3 linked regions of the Homo sapiens genome follow. Each later gene encodes a partner of the first gene's protein in a complex. Each region holds a gene or a part of one and is shown in the gene's direction. Other genes may lie near its edges.

What was found. The genes of interacting proteins can lie anywhere in the genome.
Region 2: SMARCA2 (region 1) and SMARCE1 share a complex: the UniProt entries of both Homo sapiens proteins name them as parts of the BAF complex.
Region 3: SMARCA2 (region 1) and DPF1 share a complex: the UniProt entries of both Homo sapiens proteins name them as parts of the neuron-specific chromatin remodeling complex.

The regions. Positions count from the first base shown.
Region 1 is NC_000009.12:2,053,341-2,060,361, forward strand, and holds part of SMARCA2 (SWI/SNF-related matrix-associated actin-dependent regulator of chromatin subfamily A member 2), read left to right. Parts: intron 1-1,256; coding exon 1,257-1,383; intron 1,384-3,331; coding exon 3,332-3,505; intron 3,506-4,950; coding exon 4,951-5,124; intron 5,125-7,021. UniProt on the Homo sapiens protein: ATPase involved in transcriptional activation and repression of select genes by chromatin remodeling (alteration of DNA-nucleosome topology).
Region 2 is NC_000017.11:40,630,819-40,637,839, reverse strand, and holds part of SMARCE1 (SWI/SNF-related matrix-associated actin-dependent regulator of chromatin subfamily E member 1), read left to right. Parts: intron 1-267; coding exon 268-348; intron 349-1,313; coding exon 1,314-1,445; intron 1,446-1,737; coding exon 1,738-1,909; intron 1,910-5,472; coding exon 5,473-5,645; intron 5,646-6,146; coding exon 6,147-6,248; intron 6,249-6,915; coding exon 6,916-7,021. UniProt on the Homo sapiens protein: Involved in transcriptional activation and repression of select genes by chromatin remodeling (alteration of DNA-nucleosome topology).
Region 3 is NC_000019.10:38,221,223-38,229,006, reverse strand, and holds the start of DPF1 (zinc finger protein neuro-d4), read left to right. Parts: upstream 1-4,784; 5' UTR 4,785-4,864; coding exon 4,865-4,893; intron 4,894-5,101; exon of another isoform or gene 5,102-5,251; intron 5,252-6,298; coding exon 6,299-6,459; intron 6,460-6,542; coding exon 6,543-6,650; intron 6,651-7,784. UniProt on the Homo sapiens protein: May have an important role in developing neurons by participating in regulation of cell survival, possibly as a neurospecific transcription factor. Belongs to the neuron-specific chromatin remodeling complex (nBAF complex).

The DNA.
Region 1 (7,021 bases):
AATTCTTAATTTTCAGCTTTTATAGTTGAGGTCCAGGAAGGTTCTCGGAAAGTGTATCTTAATTATCTATCATTTTATTGCAGTGGTTTTGGTATCAGGCAAATTGAGGTTCCAATCTTGGCCCCCTTCTTTACTAGCTCTGTGGTATCTCCAGGTGTCTTCAGTTTTCCTCATCAGCAAAATGGGACCATTATAACTTTTACCTTACAGAGGCGTGTCTGTGTGTGTAAGAGAGAGACAATTAAATAACATTGTACATTAAAGGCACTTAGTGCTGTTAATATTAGCCTACTTTAACTTATTACTTATTATTATTCTTTCTTTGTTGAAATCTAGTTCAGTACAGTTTGCCTCAGATTTAGGGGATGTAGTTCTAAAAATAGTCTTAAATGGCATATAATTATTTTGTCAGAATAGGATTCAGGTGAACTCTAAAACCAGCAGTTTATATATCTAACAGTAATAGTATCCCAAGTGAATGGCTAAAGTCAGAGGTCTTTTATTTTCTACTCTGCCTTTATTATGAAGAAGTACATGCAGTTATATTTTTGATGGTGTGTAAAACGAGAATCCTCAACATCCTTTTCTAGAAACTCTTGGTTTTTGAGTACTATTTACTGCTGGCCCTGATTTTTTTAAAACAGCCTCATTTGTATTTTCTTTTCTCAAGCAAGCTCTGCTCACAGAGGAAGTGGTTGTGGCTGGCAGAGCGCTTTCTGAATGTTTAGGGTTGGCTGATTTCTGTGGCATCAGCACCTAAAACTGTTCTTGCTCACTGCGCTTTAATGGCTGTCGTCATCAGCATCTTGGCAAAGAAGACAAATGGTCTGGTTGCCTTAGGACAGAACTAGAAGTTCGGAAGAAAAAAGTCTGTGCTCTCAGCTCTGCATTCTGTCTGGCTGGGAGTTAGAAAGCTTGTCAATTGGTTCTGTCTCTTATATTCTCTCTCTGCTAAGAGTGAGCAAGGACATTTGACTTCCCCACTAGATGCAGGGTGAACCTTCTTTCCCTAGTGTTAGATAGAGGTTATGGAGGAAGCCACATTGTTAAGTAACATATACCTGTCTGCATTAATGCAAAGGTAGCTTTTCTCTGCTTAACATCAAAAATTCTAGTTGGGTGTTAGAGATCAACTATCAGTATCTGGAATATGTTTTGCCCCGGACTTAAACCTAATGTCATTGTTTATCATTTAAGATTAAATTGTAATGTGTTTTTCCCCTGCCCCCTTTTCCCCATTTTATTGTTTCCTTTAGACTTCAGGCCCGCATAGCTCATAGGATACAAGAACTGGAAAATCTGCCTGGCTCTTTGCCACCAGATTTAAGAACCAAAGCAACCGTGGAACTAAAAGCACTTCGGTTACTCAATTTCCAGCGTCAGGTAATACATTTTCCCCAGTGAATCTGAGATGTAGGAAATAAATGTAATTGTTCCTAAAGTGTTATCTGTGTTGCCTTTAGTCTATTCAATATTGTTACAAAGATATAAAGATATAAATATAGTAAAATAGTGAATCTTTTAGACCAACAGCTTACAACTAAAAATGATGAAGATGAACTGCTTATTATTCTGGTTTTCTCTTCTGTATATGGGAAAGAGTTTTTCCTCCTGTACTATGGGTTACAAAGTCAGAGTTATGGCGTTTTGTTACCATGGATGAAAAACCTTGGGAACAAGTGGGGTAGCTCATGTTTGCTTTTATGACTCCAAGGAAAAACCAGAAGGTAGTGGATTGGAGCTTCTTTGTAAGCACAGATGTAAAGTGCTTGCCACGACTGTGAAAATAATTTTAACAAATATGGTAGCCACGCTACTGAATTAGTGGTTCATCATTTATAGAAATACATAAAGCAATGTCTTATAGCTTATTTATTCACCGATGTCTAAGTTTGGAGTGTTTGATCACATCAGGCTCATGTATTGACTAATCAGTAAATTATCTGCTCTTGTAGTTTACAGCAGTTATTAAAAGCCAGTATAATGACCTATTTTCTGATTTCTAAATTAGTAAGAGACAAGTGGAATGAGTTAGAGCTAATTTTCACTTTGGCGAGTTTTGCCTTGTGGACTGAAAAGGTTCAAGTTTGCTAGTCCGCAGATTGCCTCACTAACCCAAAGGGGATAAGGAACGTTTCATTGTTAGTCAGATGGGTTTGTTTTGTTAAAGTCTGGAACATGCGAAATGAATAATTAATGAGTCAAAGTAGTTTGGAAGTATTGACTTGGTTTGTTGGAGGATGTGACTAAAATCACAGGCCACTCCAGTTGCTATTGTGGTAGGAATTTGGGTGTATATTTGCCTTACCGGCTATAATCTCACAGATGGACATTAGTGGTGGGTAGGTGCTACTTGGCTCTTGGTTTGTGAGAGTAGATTTCAGCTTAAATTTTAAAAAGAAAAGGGAAAATTCTCTGAGTTCTGTTTACTTCTTTCTTATTGGTGACCTCATAAGATGAATTAATAAAGTGCTGGATAAAATCTTACTAAATGAATATTAACCAAGTATATTTTCCGGAATATGTTTATGTTCAAATTAGCGTTGCCATGACGGACTCTTATTGATTTCTGATTTTTGTTTGATATTATTTTAAAAATCTGTTATTTATGAAGCTTCCTAATTAAATTAACTGTAACTAATGATATTTCAGATGCAGTGGAATGATTATTTAATGTGTATTCTCCAGTCCCTACCCCCTACCACCACATAACATGCAATACAGATAAAAGTATTACATTTGTGATCTGAAATAAGTTCATGATATAATATAAAATGTAGATCTCTTGGAAAGAAGATCATTATTGGAGTGGGAAGAAGCCAAAACTCATATTTCCCATCCTTTGTATGAGACTATGAATTAACGTTGTTTGAGTACCTGCTGCTACCACACGTGAAAGTAATTCTTTTATTCTTTTTTTGGAGCATCATTAAAATTAATCTTTAAACACAAAGAGAATGTTAACATGACACTTAAAACAAAGCGGAAAATTTAAAAAGCTTATTTAGCTAATTGGTATCATTAGAATAATTAGAGAAAATGAAGTTATTTAAAAGGCAAGACAACATCTTTTCTTTCTTTTACTGTTACAGTACTATAATTGCTTTTGATTTGAATTATTTGGGGAGAAAAATCTTGTACCGTTCTTGAAAATATTGCATACATTTGGCATGATTTTAGTTCCTTCATTTAATACAAACCAAAGGTGATTGAGAAGCTTGTGGAGATTCCCCGCCCCACTCTATTCCATTAAATGCAACCGCGAGAAGGCCAGAGTTCAGGAACCTAGCTTCTGTTAGGGAAGGCTGTCTAACTGCTCTCTTCTTGACAGCTGAGACAGGAGGTGGTGGCCTGCATGCGCAGGGACACGACCCTGGAGACGGCTCTCAACTCCAAAGCATACAAACGGAGCAAGCGCCAGACTCTGAGAGAAGCTCGCATGACCGAGAAGCTGGAGAAGCAGCAGAAGATTGAGCAGGAGAGGAAACGCCGTCAGAAACACCAGGTTCTTAGACCCTGGGCTTTGCTCACCCTCACTTTGGCAGAGCTGTCCAATGAATTCATCAAATGGGGTCAGAATGACTGAAAAATGGACCCTTGTGGGTGGTGGGGACATCACAGAACAGAACGGTTCCTTGACATGTACATAATCCAACCACATCATTTTATAGACAAAGACGCTTAAGCCAGGACGTATAAATGACTGCCCAAGGTCATACAATTGCTTAGCAGCACAATGAGGTTTAGTATTGTCTTAGTTTGTCTGGGCTGCTATAAAAAAATAGCACAAACTGGGTGGTTGATGAGCAACAGAAGTTTATTTTTCACCGTTCTGGAGGCTGGAAGCCTGAGATCAGGGTACTAGCATGGCTGGGCTCTGGTGAGGGTCTTCTTCTGGGTTGCAAACTGTTAACTTCTCCTTGTTTTCTTACGTGGTGGAAGCAGGCCAAGAAAGCTCTCCGGGCTTCCTTTATAAGGGCACTAATCCCATTCGTAAGGGCTCTACCCTCATGACCTTATCACCTCCCGAAGACCCCACCTCCTAATACCATTACATTGGGAGTTAGCATTTCAATATATAAATTTTGGGAGGACACAAACATTCAGTCCATAACAGGTGTCATGTTCATAATCCCATGGGAAGTTTTTGAATGGGTGGGCATAGGTGGATTTCCTAGAGCAAAATTCTGGGAGCAGGAACTTGGAAAAGGAAAGTAGAAAGCAAAAAGTTATTTTCATAACAAATATAATAGTGTCCTGGCTTCTCTGAAGGGCCTAGTTGAATGTTTCACAGAGGCAAATATTAAAAACATTCCTTTCTGGGGGTTTGGAAATATTTTGATGTAGGATTTGATTTCCTGTCATAGTCCTGTAAATTGTATTTGTTTTCCTGTGCTTAATTTAGTGCTTAGCTTAGTTTCCTTTTGAAAAAATGTTGGATTTTAGTGTAAATAGAGTATATATTTAAAAAGTGGATACAAATTCTGCATGGCAATTTTAACTTTGTATAAACTTATTTTGTGTCATACTCTAGGGTAGTTAGAGCAGAAAAACATTACTTTTGTGACATACTTTTTGCTGGAAATACTCATGTTCCTCAGGTTTATTTTGGAGTGAATGAGTGGTTTGCTTTACATTTTATCATTGCCATTTTGTAGGTCTCTTTCAGTCTTCGATCTTTCCATTCTCATGTGGCCACACCCTCAAGGCTAAGGAGGCTTCTCTTGCTAAAGCTTACAACAAAAGGAACCCGAAGAGGCTATCTTTCCCACCAGCCCCATGGCCCACACCTTAACTGCAGAGACACCAGGGCACCTATCCCCAAACAGATTCTAGTCTTCCTATGCTGTTAAACACACACTGAGAGTTTTCTTGGACAACACTGATAGCTCAGAGGACACTGGTCATTGGATTTTAAGTATCCTTTTCTTCCCTTTTTGGATCTTCTAGGAATACCTGAACAGTATTTTGCAACATGCAAAAGATTTTAAGGAATATCATCGGTCTGTGGCCGGAAAGATCCAGAAGCTCTCCAAAGCAGTGGCAACTTGGCATGCCAACACTGAAAGAGAGCAGAAGAAGGAGACAGAGCGGATTGAAAAGGAGAGAATGCGGCGACTGATGGTAAGGAACTCCCTGCAGGAGCCCAGGAAACTACTCAACCCACGTCCGTCTGCAATGAGACCATTAAATATGGTGGTAGTAGAAGGAAAAAATGAAAACTGCTTATCAAAAATTTTAGTAAATTTCTTTGAACCTTAGGGAGATGAAGTAAAAACTTTTTCTCTTTCCTGGAGAATGCATGCCAAAAATCTAGGGGGATGACTGATGCGTATAGTATTTCTGTGTCCTGGGGTGGCATTGCGCGGTACACATTACAGCTTCTCTCATAAAAGCAGGTACTGTATTTTGCATGAGTTTGATAACCAGATCTGGAAGGATGGCAAATGCAGTTCTTTTAAAAATATGGCCTCTTTGAGATGAATGACCACGTTTTTTGGAATGAATAACACATTAAGTCGTGTCTTCAAATCTAAGAAGGTCTGTGTTTTGAAGCCTCTGGTGCTTATCTTTCTTTTTTAATGGCAGAAATTATTCTCTAACAGTGTAATAAGTGATTTTTAAGTTGATTTTGAAATGTTGCCTTTTTTGTGATAGCCTTGTTATGGTCAAAGGCTATTCATGGATTATTACATTTGCACTGTTATTTTTTAATGGGCATATAAGCACAGAAGAGATAGGTTTATATCATTGGCCTGAGTATTTGTTTTTATTGACCATTTATTTTTGGAATTGGACCTCAGAGCACACTGTGGATTTTAGAAAAGCGTGTGTGTGTGTGATGTTATAATTATAGGAGACCTGCAGATTCTATCTAGGACGTAATGCCTGCATAGATGAAGATAAGGTCATTAGTCTCAGACCATAATTATGTTCCTGGAAAATTCTAAGTGACACTGTCTTCCTGGCTGGTATTACAGTTTGCATTTTTTTCATTTTTTGGATTCCAGAGAGTAAACACCATGTTTTAAAAGCCTCTGTGTGCAGGTACTACTACATCTTACTACCCTATCCTGCCTCCCTCTCCATACCAGGGAGAGAGGACTGTCCGAGAGGTTTCTGACTAGACCGTTTTTGTAGTAATTTGATCACTAAGCAGTCAAATTTGTCTGACTCAACTGAAGTGAAACTATATTAGAACTTCAGTAACAGATTGGTTTGACACTAATGATTAGGCATTTGCAAATCATTAATTTTTGCAATTAAGTGATGGAATATACAGATAATAGAGAAACTGAAGTTTTTTATCACTCTTTCTTCAAGTGAGTTCAACCATAACCGAAAGCAATTAGAGTTATAATAGCATTTGAGGCTCTTGCTCATCCACAGGGCAGACGGCAGCTAGACTGAGTGATGAAGCTGCTGTCACTCAGGCAGATGCTAGAGTGACACCCCTGGACAAAAGATCCCAAGTTTTTGTTTTTGTTTTTGCAATGGAGTTGCCTCTTAAAGATTTTGCAGCTTGCTCCTTTTATCGTGGCATTACATGATAAAAATAATTTGGAGTGTCCTTTTATTGGGATACACAAAGAGATTTCTCTCAAAATGGCTTAGAGTACATCAGAGTTTTATTCTGTTTAACCTCATCATGTTGCTTAATGGGAGGTGGAGGTGGGAATTACTGTATCTATTTTATTGCTCAGCAGTACCAGACTTCAGGTGCTAAGTGACTTGTCTCCAGTCACCTGGGCCCATTACTCAGTGCAGATCTGTGGCCAAAAAAAAAAAAAAAAAAAAAAAAAAAAAAAATCCCCCAAATTTGATCTTTCCTGTTAACCACAAAGTTTGTAATGCCAAAAAGAAAGACTTTTTAAAATATAAGACATTATTTGTTAAAAGCCCATTTGATTCCTTGCCTTTAGTAGTACTTTTTGAAATATTTATGAATGAAAGGATATTATGTCTGGAATTTGCTTCAAGACAATTCAGTTTGGGTTTAGAAGAAGAGTAGCAATGAAAC
Region 2 (7,021 bases), on another chromosome or scaffold:
TGGGTTACTGTGTAATATTTTATTTGTTCTTGCAGCCAGGTTGTCAAAGCATTGGCAATAAACTGCTAAGTAAAACATTTAAAAATTATGTGCTTAAAGTCATTTTCTTTTGAACATTTCTGAATTTGCAGTGATAGCTATTTTCAGTGAAGAAAATATTTGGACGAATAGAAGAAAGGCGCATTAGAATTTTTTAAGGGACTCTCTTTTCAGTTTGCCAGTGAACTCCTTACAGTTGAATAATGAATGTATTTAACTCTTTCGTAGGCATCCTCTGGTATCACGATTCCAAAACCCCCAAAGCCACCAGATAAGCCGCTGATGCCCTACATGAGGTACAGCAGAAAGGTAGGTGCTTAGGACCTGGTAAGGAGTGAGGACACTGTCTTTGCTGCTTCTTTGCTTAACATCCAACTTTAGATCGGCTTAGCCAGCTTTTCTGTGCATATTCAGAGGAAAGGTCCAAAAAAATACGGTTTTTAAAGCAATTAGTTCTGATTTCAAAATTCCAGAACTAAAATCCAACAAGAGGAGCGTGATTAAATAAACTGTTAAAATCCTTAAGATAGAATGTTCTATAGCCATTAAAGTCATTTCTTTTGGAGAATATTTAATGACGTGAGGAAAATGTTAAGTGAAGGAGGACTGCAAGACTACATGAATTAATATCTCATTTTTATAAAAATAATAGCAACCACATGTTAGTTTGAAGGGGGAAAACACAGAAGACAATAATTATCTCTAAGCAGTAAGCTTATGGTAGTTTTTATTTTCTTTTCCTCAAGTTTTCCTTTTTTTTTTTTTTTTTTTGGTGATGAGCCTACATTACTCTTAAAATAAAAAAAGTAGCCAATATCTTTATTAAAAGGCAGAGCATTATAACCACTATCTAGAAATGTTAAACCTTTTGATCTTGACTATTATATTTGTATTTGATAATATGATGTACCGTGTTATGCAAATTAAGCACTTTTCTTCTAAATTCACATGAACTTTTAGAGACGTAGACTATGTTATTGAAGTAACTCATCCTAAGTGTCTGTAGTGATTGGAGATATTCTTGCTTATCAAATTGAAGTATTTATAAGTGAGTGACGTGATGTCTGAGATCTATCTTAAAGTAATCCAGTAGGGCAAAGATAACTTGAGATTGGCCAGTTCTTGATAATTTTTGAAGTAGGCTGATGAGTACCTAGAAATTTGATACTGTTTTCTCTGCTTTGTATGTTGAAAAGTTTCCACATTAAAAACTATTTTTAAAGGTCTATACGTTTAGACATCAGTATTAACATTTCATCTGTTTTCTTTTTAAGGTCTGGGACCAAGTAAAGGCTTCCAACCCTGACCTAAAGTTGTGGGAGATTGGCAAGATTATTGGTGGCATGTGGCGAGATCTCACTGATGAAGAAAAACAAGAATATTTAAACGAATACGAAGCAGAAAAGGTAGGGTAGGGGCTCACAGTGGGATAGATAATGTGTAAAGTACATAAAACATTGGCTTACTATTTATAAAAGTAACATAAGATTTGGTCAGAACACTGATGCAGTACTGAGGCTCTGTCTACCTGAGTCAAGTCAGTTTCTCAAGGCCTCAGATTTCTTGCCTGTAAAAAGGAGATAATTATCCCAACACCCTGTTTACATCATATCTTTTGATATTCAAGTGAGATAACATAGGTCTGCATTATAACCTGCAAAATGTTAATTATAAAACCAAAAAACATTTGAATTTCAGATAGAGTACAATGAATCTATGAAGGCCTATCATAATTCCCCCGCGTACCTTGCTTACATAAATGCAAAAAGTCGTGCAGAAGCTGCTTTAGAGGAAGAAAGTCGACAGAGACAATCTCGCATGGAGAAAGGAGAACCGTACATGAGCATTCAGCCTGCTGAAGATCCAGATGGTAAAAGAAAAAAAGTGGGGTTTTGTTTATGCTTTCTCTGTGAGTTAAGATATGAGAAATCTCTTAAGTATAAGTTTTTATTTCTTATCCTAAATGGAAAAGAAAGTATAATTTAAGTATCGTCTTAGTATTTTGGTTATATTGAGTAAGATTTGTATGTGAATTTCCCACAAGAAAAAGAAATATCCTTTTCAGTGCAGAAAATAGCAAAAATTATTGATTGTTTATCAAAATCTTTGTACTCAAAATGCACGAAAGGTTTTTAAATCACAATCAGGATTTTGCCTCATCTGCTTTTAAAAAGCTAAATGCATTCTAATTATATCTTGTTTTCTTATTGGTTCACTAAATTCGCTGAATTAAAGGCTCTTAAGGGAGAAGCTAATGAGTATGTGGAAACATGAAGTTTCCTTTCCATTTAATTCAGAAATCCAATAAGAATGTATAAATATAGCTCATGCTACTATTTGTATGGGTGTACATGAGGGTATACCCATACAAATTGTATACATGCACACGAATGGCAGAGCTTCCTAATTGCCATTCTGTATGAGTAGTTAGCAGGTGTTCTGATTGTTCTGGTCTTGTGCAGCCAGGCAGGGTCTGAAGCTGCGAGGAGACCCAGAGATAGCCACCTGCAGTGTGAACACACTCAACCACATATCTAGTGTGCTGTATAAACATTAATAGTTTCTCTGTATACTGCTATGATGTGCAAAAGGTTAGAAGCTTTAGCTGCAAGCGACAAGAACATCAGGAAAATGATTTAAGATCCCATCTTAAAGTAGCAGTAACAAAGAGGAAGGCTATAAGAACTTTAAAGACAATATCAATGAGGGAGGAAGCAATAATAGTACCTGAAGACAAGAATAAGTTGATAAAAGTGGGGAAAAACAGAAGTCATTTTTAAAAATAATGTACTGGAATATTGTCAAATGTTCTCATAAATACAGACAGTGGAATGTAATACTATAGAGAATAGAATATGGAATAGAAACAGTATTGAATGTTAAGCAGAATCAGCAGTGCTAAAGACACACTAGCATCCTCACACTTTAATTACTCAAATGGGGTGATTAATGCAAGAGAAACATACAGAACTAAAAATCAGAAGACAATCCAGTCTACAGATATTGGGAGGATGGAGGTCAGTACAAGAGGAAACAAAGGCTAGCAACGTAAGTAGAAAATAACTAAAGCTTTCATTAACACCATGAACACTGAGAAGGACTAAAGAGATTCACTCAGAAACAGTCTGAAACTTGGGCCTATGATGTTTTTAACTTTCAGATTGGGTCTTAAAGTTGCTAGTAAATTCAGGTAGCAATTAAGATGCCAATATGAGAATGTCTTTAGCATACCAGTACGAAAATGATTAGAAAGAGGAATACTTGGGAGGTGGAAATGTATGTCAAATGTACATAACAGAAAGGTGGCATCTGCATGAAGTACAACAGCTACTGACTTCTTTAACAGAGGACTATCAAAAGATAGACATTGCCAGGCGCCATGGCTCACGCCTGTAATCCCAATACTTTGGGAAACTGAAGCAGGAGGATCGTTTGTGGCCAAGAGTTTGAGACCAGCCTGGGCAACACAGCAAGACCTTATCTCTACAGGATACTTAAAAATTAGCTGGGCATGGCGGCTTGTGCCTGTAGTCCCAGCTACTCCAGCTGAGGCTGAGGTAGGAGGATCAGTTGAGCCCAGGAGTTCAAGGCTGCAGTGAGCTATGATCATGCCACTGTCCTCCATCCTGGATGACAGGGCAATAACCAGTCTCAAAAAAAAGAAAAAAAAAAGAGGGCATGTGCAATTATCCACACAAGACAATGAAGGCTTTTATTCAGTGAGAGCCTCTTCATCATAGGATAAATAGCTGTTCAATTAGATCATAACCAGAGAAGCCATTCCCCCAAAAAAGGAAGCAGACGACTAACATGCAAAGAAGAACAAGCCCAAATTGCTTAGACCTTATGTCCCCATCTGTGGTCAACACTGGGGCCATATAAATGAAAGAAGAAAACAAAAGCTAACAACAAAAACAGATAACTTAGACAGATGTAGCACAGATGTACCATATATAACCCTAAAGGTGAAAAACTCTTAAAAAGTAGAAAGGTTACAGAGTTTTAAAAAAACTGTATCTTACCCAGTAGTTTTAATTTCAGAAGTTTATTTCCTAAAGAAATTACTCAAAAGGAAACAAAAGTAATTTTTTTAACTTTTTACAAAAACAACAGTTTTTAGCTGTAGTATTTATAATAATGAGAATTTTAGGAACTACTTAAGTGCCAGACAATAAGGGAGGTGCTAAACTGACATAGCAGCGCAACATAGGCCTCTGTAACAGGGTTTCCCCTGTAACAAGGTTTTCTTAAGTGTGGTTCCTCCCTGTCTGGTGGGTCACTGAGGTGATTAAGTGGTTCAGAGAGGAGCGTTTGTTTTAATATGTATTACTAAAGAGAAAGCTCTTTTTTTTTTTAAGTGAGTTAGTTTAAAGAAAAATATTAAGTAAACGATAGTACAGGCTGTTAGTAGATATATGAAAAACTATGAAGGTGATAGAGCAAAGACTGAGATTAAGGAAACACTAGATAGCTATTAAAAATAAGCCTGTAGTGTGTGTGCAGTGGCTCACACCTGTAATCCCAGCGCTTTGGGAGGCCAGGATGGGCAGATCACATGGGGTCAGGAGTTCAAGACCACCCTAGCCAACATGGTGAAATCCCATCTCTACTAAAAATACAAAAATTGGCCGGGCGTGGTGTCATGCGCCTGTAATTCCTGCTACTTGGGAGGCCGAGGCACAAGAATCACTTGAACCTGGCAGGTGGAGGTTGCAGTGAGCTGAGACTGGGCCACTGTACTCCAGCCTGGGTAACAAGAGGGAGATTCTGTCTCAAAACGAAACAGAAGCATATAAACCAGACCCATACTGTATGAACTTGGGTCATACCATTACACACTGACAACAGCTGGCTAAGTGTAAACTGACAAAAATTAAATTTGGAATCAGACATTTATTTTTCTTCTATAAAATTACTTGAGGGCCTGGGAAACTGAATATTGTTAGAGGTGATGTATTCTCTGCTGTCATAATTTTACAAATGGGCATTTTCATTCATTTTTAAAGTGCTACAAGTGACAAAGTCACTGCCCAGTTCATATGTTGTTCATTAGTTGTTAAATGCCTTAAGTTACTACCAAGAGAGTGAAACATTGGGCAGAATTTCAATTACTGCCATCACATACAGCCTTCACATTGATTCCGAAGCCAGAAGAGACATGTTGTATCTCGTTTATGTTTTAGCCAAATCCTTCTCAGACACAACATTATCACTTAAAGACTGTGAGATAAATTACTACCTTGGCCAATGAACACATTACGTCCTCTGTATGGTTTTTATCAAGTAACTGCCCCAGTGCTCCCATGACGCTGGGCAGGTCCACTTGTTAGGCCAGTGAGGGCCATAGTTCGTTGGTAATTAAGTGTTAACATTGTTACACTCCTTTTTATGGTTACTGGTGACCTGATTTCCAGAACAATTTGTTCACTCCAGATTATGATGATGGCTTTTCAATGAAGCATACAGCCACCGCCCGTTTCCAGAGAAACCACCGCCTCATCAGTGAAATTCTTAGTGAGAGTGTGGTGCCAGACGTTCGGTCAGTTGTCACAACAGCTAGAATGCAGGTCCTCAAACGGCAGGTCCAGTCCTTAATGGTTCATCAGGTAAAGTCATAAAACATTCATTTCAATAAGATGTGCCTATACCACAAATCCCAGGTGATATGATTCCTACACCATGCCTAAATCTACCTGTTAAATATGTCAATCTAACCTGTTCCTGATTTGGAGAAGAGGTTTAAGGAAGTGGACCTTTCCCAGATGTTTAATAAGTTTGTCATTAAAAACTATAATATAGAACCTTGTAATGGAAAGTATATTCGTTAAGAAATACGTGTGAACTTAAGAATTTTGAGGCATCCTATCAATCTTTACTGCTATGCTAAATATTTTTTCCCAAGGAATTGCTCAGGCCTGAAACAGTATTCTTTAACATTTACCTATTGATCATAATCATTTCTTTGTGCTGCATTTTGTATTTTTTAAATCTTAGCTAGACTCATGTGATAAATGATCTAAAGTTCAAAACATTATTTGGTACACTGTTTGAAAGTATGGACCATTAAAAAATGAGACACAATTATGAAGCCTGATCCTGTCTTGCAGCGAAAACTAGAAGCTGAACTTCTTCAAATAGAGGAACGACACCAGGAGAAGAAGAGGAAATTCCTGGAAAGCACAGATTCATTTAACAATGAACTTAAAAGGGTATCTGTTTAATATGTTAACTATACTTTTATCACTATACCTGTTACTTTATTTTTCCTCATTCTTTTTTCCAAAATAGTGTTTTTATTGAATGTTGTTCACTTTGAAACAGGGCTAACTTTATTATAAACCTGTAGGATCCTTTTTTTATAAGATTGTTCCCATTCTCTGGCAAAATTGCAATAAATTTGAAATATCATAGAGTATACACATATCTTCTAGGCCTGTAAATGCTAGAGCCCTCTGATATGTTAAACTCCCATACAGTCATTAATTACTTTCATTTTATTGTGATTTATTCATCAAATGTCGTCATTAAATGTAATTTATAATTTGCACTTTGCATTCAGACAAGGAAATCTAGTTGGTAGCCCAAAATGTAAAACGGAAGCCTTATGTATACCCCAGAACTTTCACTATTTTGCCTCACCAGCTGCTCTGGAATATCCTATATTATACAACTGCTAGAGCTGCTGTTTTTTCTTGTAGACCCAAGAGTTTCAGAGAAGACCTAGAACCACATTTTTTTGGCACACACACACACACATACAGGTGTATAGATATATATATATAGTTTATAGGCAAGAAAACCAACTTTTGAAAGAATATATCTGGCTCAAAAATTATAAGGAAAAAACATTACGGAGTTCTGTTTTTTTCTGATTAGTTGTGCGGTCTGAAAGTAGAAGTGGATATGGAGAAAATTGCAGCTGAGATTGCACAGGCAGAGGAACAGGCCCGCAAAAGGCAGGAGGAAAGGGAGAAGGAGGCCG
Region 3 (7,784 bases), on another chromosome or scaffold:
GAACTGGAAGCCCCGAACCCGCCGTCAGTCTGGACCGCGGCATCCCTCCCTCTCCCCGCGCATACACATCAAACGGGAGCATCTCTGATCCCTTTGGGGACCGGCTGCCCAGGAGGGGGTGCCGGGAGCGCCCTCGGTCTCCGGGGATTCCCTCCCTTTCTCCCTGGCCGCGGTCCTCCGAGCGTTCGCCTCTTCCCGGGCCCGGTGGCTGGGAATCCGGAAGCCTGGGTCCGAGCCTGGCCCCTCCTGACCCTCTCCTCTCCTTGCCATCCCTCGCGCTCTCCACACCTCCCCTTCCCCCTCTCCATCTCGCTCTTGCTTCCTCTTCGGGATCCCGGACTCCACGTCCCAGCGCTCCCCACCCCCCGTTCCCAGGCGGTGACAGCGGGCTCCAAGTGACAGGCACTCGGCCGCTCCCGCCCTCCCTCCCCGCAGGCGAGCGAGGCGCTCCCCTCCCCCTCCTCCCGGGCCTGGTGGAGGAGGCGGAGGGCGAGCGCCCGCGGCGTCGCACAAAGGGGCCGGGGCGACCTCCCCCACCCTTCCCCCAACCCCGTGCGCTGGCTGCCTTGACCTTGAACATCGAGGGCTGGGGGCGGGGGTGGGGGGTGGGGGGAGAGAGGGAGAGAGGGAGCGCCCCCCTACCCCACCCACGAGAAGGGATGCGCCTGCTGGCTGGACCAGAGGCCGCCAGTTGCTTCTGGTTTCTGGCGGGAATGGGGGTGGGAGGTGGAGGGTGGGAGTTGGGAGAGGAAGGGGGGCAGGGACTTAGAGGCAAGCGCCTACACGTGTGGCTTCGCCGTGAGCAGGGTGCCGGGAGCGGGTGTGTGGGGCTCGGGTCCGTGTGAGGTGGTGTATGATGGTGACACCCCTCTGCTGCCCTCTCACCCTAAGTGGCACACACAGACAGCTGTCTCTCCTGTGAGGGGACATCCGCAAAATGGCTGGGAACGGGGCTCTTGTGCAGGTTGGTGGATCTACAGGCGATGGGGCCCCTCACCCTGACCCTGGCCCAGACCCCTGGGAGGAGGTGTGCTACAGCCGTGAGCAGGGGCCCAGCTACAGTAAGCCTGGACTGGGAGGGCCCTACCCCTCTGTGCCCTTCCCTTCCAAAAGGTCTCTGTGGGGGTGAAGGTGGGGACTCCCTGGCTCCTGAAAGAATGTGAGTCAAATCCCCTGGGGAGAAGGAGCTGCAGGGTGCCGCCCTCGGAAGTTCCGACTGCCTGAGTTCCAAAACCAGCTTGAGCCACGAATGTTCCCTGCCGTGAGCCTCAGTTTTGCCATCTGTGTATGGGGGCTTCTAACAGCCCTTACCACCCGATGGGACTGTCGTGGGGCTAAGGCCATCTTTGTAAAGCAGTTAGCACAGAGACTGACACTGACCAAATGTAGTGATTATTATTAGTAGTATCAATATTGATTTATGAAATTGATTTCTACTGTGGGCCAGCTCCCACACAGGGCATTGGGGGATGGGGCAGGAGGATTGTTTGGGCCAGGGAGAGGACTGGGAGTTCAAGTGTGTAGGAGAGTATGTGGGAGTGGTGTGTGCAGGTGGTTAGGGCAGAAGGAAAGAAAGGAGAGCCCGCTGCAAGTGTCAGCCTGCGTCTGTGGGTAGATATCCTGCTGGTGGGCCGGGCATGGTGGCTTATGCCTGTAATCTCAGCACTTTGGGAGGGCAGGGTGGGCAGATCACTTGAGCTTAGGAGTTTGAGACTAGCCTGGCCAACACAGGGACACCCTGTTTTTACAAAAATACAAAAATTAGCCGGGTGCGGTGGCACAGGCCTGTAGTCCCAGCTACTTGGGGGTTTGAGGTGGGAGGATCGCTTGAGCCTGGGAGGTGGAGGCTGCAGCGAGCTGTGTTCATGCCATGGCACTCCAGCCTGGGCCATCGAGTGAGACGCTGTCCAAAAAAAAAAAAGAGAAAAAGAGAAAGAGGAAAGAAAGAGAAGAAAAGAAAGAAAGAAAGAAAGGAAGGAAGGAAGGAAGGAAGGAAGGAAGGAAGGAAGGAAGAGAAATAAAAGAAGAAAAGAAAAGAAAGAAAAATAGAAATTCTGCTGGTAGAGGAGGACTGTTAGGAAGGTCTGCACTCAGTGTCTACACTCGGGCTTCTCTTAATCAAATCGACATGAGAGTTTGGGGTGGGGCAGGAGTGAGTCTGCGTGTCTGAGGCTAGCGGTGTGGGAATCAAGTGTAAGAGGGTGTGTTACGGGACCTGTGAGCTAATGGGAGGTGAGAGAGGAAGGTGGGGTCACAGCTCACCGTGGGTAAGGTGTGAGGTGGCCACTATAGGGCCCTGGAGGCCAGAGTGATCGTAGGGGTGTCAGTGCCCCTCACTTAATCCCCTTGTCACCACTCCAGGCCATATGTGAATCAGAGACCTACCTCCTGTTCCAGGAGAGGGGCCGGCCAAGACCTTACCTGGCTTAGATGGGCGAGTTTGTGGAAAGGGTCTAAGACTAGAGGAGTGTGTGTGTGTGTGTGTGTGTGTGTGTGTGTGTGTAGAAGTGACCGTGAGTGTAGGAGGCCTTGACTGGATCTCTCTCTTGGGGGGATTTCAAGTGACAAAAATGGTGAAGGCTAGCGGGCCACTTCTGTCGGCTGGGGCGCCCCCTGGTGGATGAGGGCGTTTGTGGGCGTGTTAATTACAGCAGCCGCCCAAATTTGAATGCTGGCTCTACAGGGGTCCGGGTGGAAGAGGGGAAGGGGAAAGGGGGAGAAGGGGTGGGAAGGGGAAAGGGGGAGGAGGGGTGAGACGGGAGGGGGGACGGGGTGGTGGTGTTGCAGAGAGACTGGGTCAGTTTGTGACTCAGTGGGTCTGCTCACTCCCTGGGGATCTCTTCGGGTGGAGTCAGTGTGGGTGACAGTGGGAGAGAGAAGGAGGTCAGGACTACTTGGGGAGGGCCGTCAGGGGTGCCTGCCTCCTTCCTTCAGTCTTACCTTCAAAGAGCCGCCAGGGCATGCGGGCATGTGAGGTTACCTTCCTGTGCCTCAGATTCCTCACCTGGAAAATGCAGATAATAAAAGCATCCCGGGGTGAACTGTGCCCAGCACATGATGGGTGCATTTACTCATTCAACAAATATCTACTGAGCATCTATTTTTTTTTTTTTTTTTGGAGACAGGGTCTTGCTCAGTTGTCCAGGCTGGAGTGTAGTGGTGTGATCATAGCTCACTGCAGCTTCGATCTCCTGGGTTCAACCAATCCTCCTGACTCAGCCTCCTGAGTAGCTGGGACCATAGGCATGTGCCACCATGCCCAGCTATTTATTTTTTTTTTAGTAGAGACCAGGTCTCGCTATGTTGCCCAGGCTGTTCTCCTGAGCTCAAGCGGTCCTCTCATCTCAGCCTCCCAGATTGCTGGGATTACAGGCATGAGTCACGGCGCCCTGCTTACTTAGTTTTTTGTTTGTTTGTTTGTTTGTTTGTTTGCTTTTAGAGACAGAGTCTCGCTCTGCCACCCAGGCTGGAGTGCAGTGGTGAGACCACAGCTCACTGCAGCCTCAGCCTCCCAGGTTCAAGCTATCCTCCCACTTTAGCCTTGCAAGTAGCTGGGACTACACTGCTGCGCCATCATGCCCAGCTAATTTTAATTTTTTTTTGTAGACACAGGGGTCTGGATATGTTGCCCAGGTTGGTCTCAAACTCCTGGGCTCAAGCAGTGCTCTCATCTAGGCCTCCCGAAGTACTGGGATTGCAGACTGGAGCCATCGCACCTGGCCGCATTATTCTTTCTTTCTTATTATTTATTTATTTATTTTTGAGAGGGAGTCTCACTCTTGTTGCCCAGGCTGGAGTGCAATGGCACGATCTCAGCTCACTGCAACCTCCACCTCCTGAGTTCAAGTGATTCTCCTGCCTCAGCCTCCTGAGTGGGGGAGTATAAGCATGCGCCACCATGCCCGGCTAATTTTGTATTTTTAGTAGAGACTACTACCATGTTGGCCAGGCTGGTCTCGAACTCCCATCCTCAGGTGATCCACCTGCCTGGGCCTCCCAAAGTGCCGGGATTACAGGTGTGAGCCACTGCGCCTGGCCTGCCAGTCACCTCTTAAAATGCTTTACCTATATTTACTCATTTAATCCTCACAACACTCCAGTGAGGCATCATCCTCTTTTTACAGATGAGGAAACTGAGGCCCAGAAAGGTTAAGTCATTTGCCAAGGTCACATGGCCACCAAGTGGCAGAGCTAGGATTTGAACCCTGGAGGTGTGACTACTGTTTCTAACCTGCACTGCTGCTGTCAGGCCTGCAGAAGGCGTTGAGCAGGGCGGGGTGACCGTGAGCGTGGCTGCTGGGAGAGACAGCCCCGGGTGGGGTCTCTGGAGCCAGGAGGGACTTGGGTGGGGGGCGGTGAGGGGGTGTCTGCTGGAAGCATGTTGGTGAGAAGTCTGTGTGGGCACCTGGGAGGTGTCTCTGCGTCTCTTAGTATTGCAGTGTGTGTGCGTGTGGCTGTGTGAGTCCGTGCGAAGGTGTGTGAGTAGGAGTGTGTGGGAGGCTGTGAGTATCCGCGTGAATGTGTGTGTAAACTGCCATGCGTGGGCGTGTGCGAGTCCAGGTGTGCATGTGGTTGTGTGCACGCGAGAGCAGGATATGTGGACGAGTGAGGGCGGGTGAGTGACGGTGCGTGCCCCGGGCCCCTCCTCCGCGCCGTCCCGTCCCCGCGGGGTCCCGGGGGCCCCCTGGCCTGGGACTACCACTCCCAGCATGGCCCGGGCGGGCCCGCCCCGTCGCCGCGATTGGCCGTGGCCCTCGTGCTCCCGCCCCCCGGGAATGAATGGATGGGCGGCCTCAGCGCCCGCCCGACCGCTGGGAGGACCGACCCGGCGGGGACCTGCTGGGGGCAGGACCCGGGGAGCAAGATGGCCACTGTCATCCCTGGCCCCCTGAGGTGGTGCGGGCCGGCGGGAGGCGGAGAGGAAGCGCGGGCGGGTCTACGCGGGCCTGTGTGTGTGTGGCGACCGGGGGTGGGGCCGAAGGGGTGTCTGGGGGGCTGTCACCGAGTGCGGGGCTGCGCGGGGGTGCGAGAGTGTGTGACTGTGGGTCTCTGACAAGAATGGTGTCGGATGCACCGCTCCCTGGCGGGGTGGAGGGCGTGGGGGGCCTCCAGATTCTTTTTGGGGAAGGGAGACATCATCCCTTCCCTGCAACCCTCGGGTCTGGGAGAGACTGAAATGACCCGGGGGTGCGGGGGCCTTGGCAACTGGAGTGAAGTCCACACTACCTTTGTCTTGGGATGTGGAGTGTGTGTGTGTATCACTTATTTGTGTTCTGGTTTTTTTAAGAATTTTTGGGGGATAGGTGTGTGGACATGTGTCTGTTTCCTTTTATTCTGCACTAGATATCTTTGGATATTTGGGTCTCCCAGTGTGTGTCCGTGTCCTTTGGAACTATATGTCATTTGTCTTGTGTTCTGTGTTTTTGGGTATGTAGGGCTGCGTGTATTTGTGTGTAAATTTTTGTGTGACTATGGGTGGATTTGGCTGTTTCTGTGTTTTATATGTGTGTGTGTCTGTGTGGATGTGTGATATTTTAGATACTGGTTGCGCATCGTGCATCTTTGTAAATGTGTGTGTGTACCTGTGTGAATCTGTGTGATTTCTTTGTGTTGTGTGTCTGGATATTGTGTGTGTGGTTTGTGTTGTGTCTTTGGATACATGGGTAAGTGCCTAGGGGCGCAAGTGGTTTCTGTAGTTCCTGTCTTTTGACATGCTTGTGTCTTTGGATGCATGAGGGGGTGTATGTGTGTGTGGTGTGATGTTTCCATGTTGTGTGTCTTTGTGTGGGTGATGTGTTTCTGGTGTGTGTCTGTGGATATGTGATGTGTCTTTGTGCATGGTTATTTGTGTGATTTGTCTCCACACTATGGAACTTGGGATATTTGTCTTTTTCAGTAGATATTTATGTGTGCACGTGTGTGAGGTTTGTCTGTTTCTCCTTTGTGAGTATTGGGATTTGTCTCTCTTTGTGTGTGAATCCCGTGTGACTGTGTGTGATTTGTGTTGTGTGTCTGCATGTGTTCAGGTAGGGATACGTCCCGGTGTGTTTTTGTTTGTTTCTGTATCGTGTTTCTACTCATGAGCTGGGGGCCTGTTTGAGTCCCAGTTTGGGGGCCCCTGGGCCCTGTCCCCTTCCCCCAGCCTGGGTCCCGGAGTGGGAGGAGGGGAGAGGTGAGGCTGGAGGGGTCGGCCCACCCCTCCCGAGCCTGGGCGGCCCGGCAGCCGGGGAAGGGGTGCTGGGCGACCCTGTGCGCCTGCCCTTGCTGACAGCCGCCCGCCCGTTCGCCGCCCCTCTAGCCTAGGCGAGGACTTCTACCGCGAGGCCATCGAGCACTGCCGCAGTTACAACGCGCGCCTGTGCGCCGAGCGCAGCCTGCGACTGCCCTTCCTCGACTCGCAGACCGGCGTGGCCCAGAACAACTGCTACATCTGGATGGAGAAGACCCACCGCGGGCCGGGTACCGCCGGGAGGGCTGGCGCAGGGCGGGGCGGGGCCAGGCCGCCCCACCGCCGCCGCCCTCTCACCCCCCTCTCTCTCCAGGTTTGGCCCCGGGACAGATTTACACGTACCCCGCCCGCTGTTGGAGGAAGAAACGGAGACTCAACATCCTGGAGGACCCCAGACTCAGGCCCTGCGAGTACAAGATCGGTGGGTGCAGCCGCTGGGGCCCCCATCGGTGTCCCAGCGCCTGCTGTGTGTCCTAGCACTCGTCCATCACCTTTATCGCCTTCTAGCAAGTGTCTGCCTGGCTGGCTGTGTGTCTGTCTGCCCATGTGCGTCCCGGGTGTTTCCCAGAGATTCCACAGTTTCTCTGAGTCACTGAGTGGCGACTGCATCTCCTCCTACATGGGCCCAGGTGCCCAGTTGTTGTTATTTATTTATTTATTTATTTATTTATTTATTTTTGAGACAGAGTTTCACCCAGGCTGGCGTGCAATGGCGTGATCCCCCAACCTCCACCTAGCGGGGAGTTGAACCTTGAACCCGCAACTTCCGCCTAGCAGGTTCAAGCGATTCTGCCTCAGCCTTCCGAGTAGCTGGGATTACAGGCATGCGCCACCATGCCCGGCTGATTTTGTATTTTTAGTAGAAACGGGGTTTCACCATGTTGGTCAGGCTGGTCTGGAACTCCTGACCTCAGGTGATCTGGCCACCTCGGCCTCCCAAAGTGCTGGGATTACAGGTGTGAGCCACCGCGCCTGGCCTGTTGTTTTTTAAATAGAGGCAGGGTGTTACTATGTTGCCCAGTCTGGTCTTGAACTCCTGAGCTCAAGGGATCCTCCTGTCTCAGCCCTCCAAAGTGCAGGGATTATAGGCGTGAACCACCATGCCCCACCAAGGGTCCCAGTGGTATTGGAGGGCATAGTGATATCTGTTAGGTGTGTGTGGGTGTATGGAGTTGCTGACTGTGTCCCTTCCCCTGGGAACTGGGATGGATCAGTCTGCCTGTATTTTTTTTTTTTTTGAGATGGAGTCTGGCTCTGTCACCCAGGCTGGAGTACAGTGGCGCAATCTCAGCTCACTGCAACCTCCGCCTAGTGGGTTCAAGCGATTCTCCTGTCTCAGCCTCCTGAGTAGCTGGGATTACAGATGCACACTGACATGCCCGGCTAATTTTTTTGTATTTTTAGTAGAGACAGGGTTTCACCATGTTGGCCAGGCTGGTCTCGAACTCCTGACCTCAGGTGATCCACCTGCCTTGGCCTCCCAGAGTGCTGGGATTACAGGCTTGAGTCACCATGCCCGGCCATCTGCCTGTATTTTTTTCTGTGGGTGCCTGAG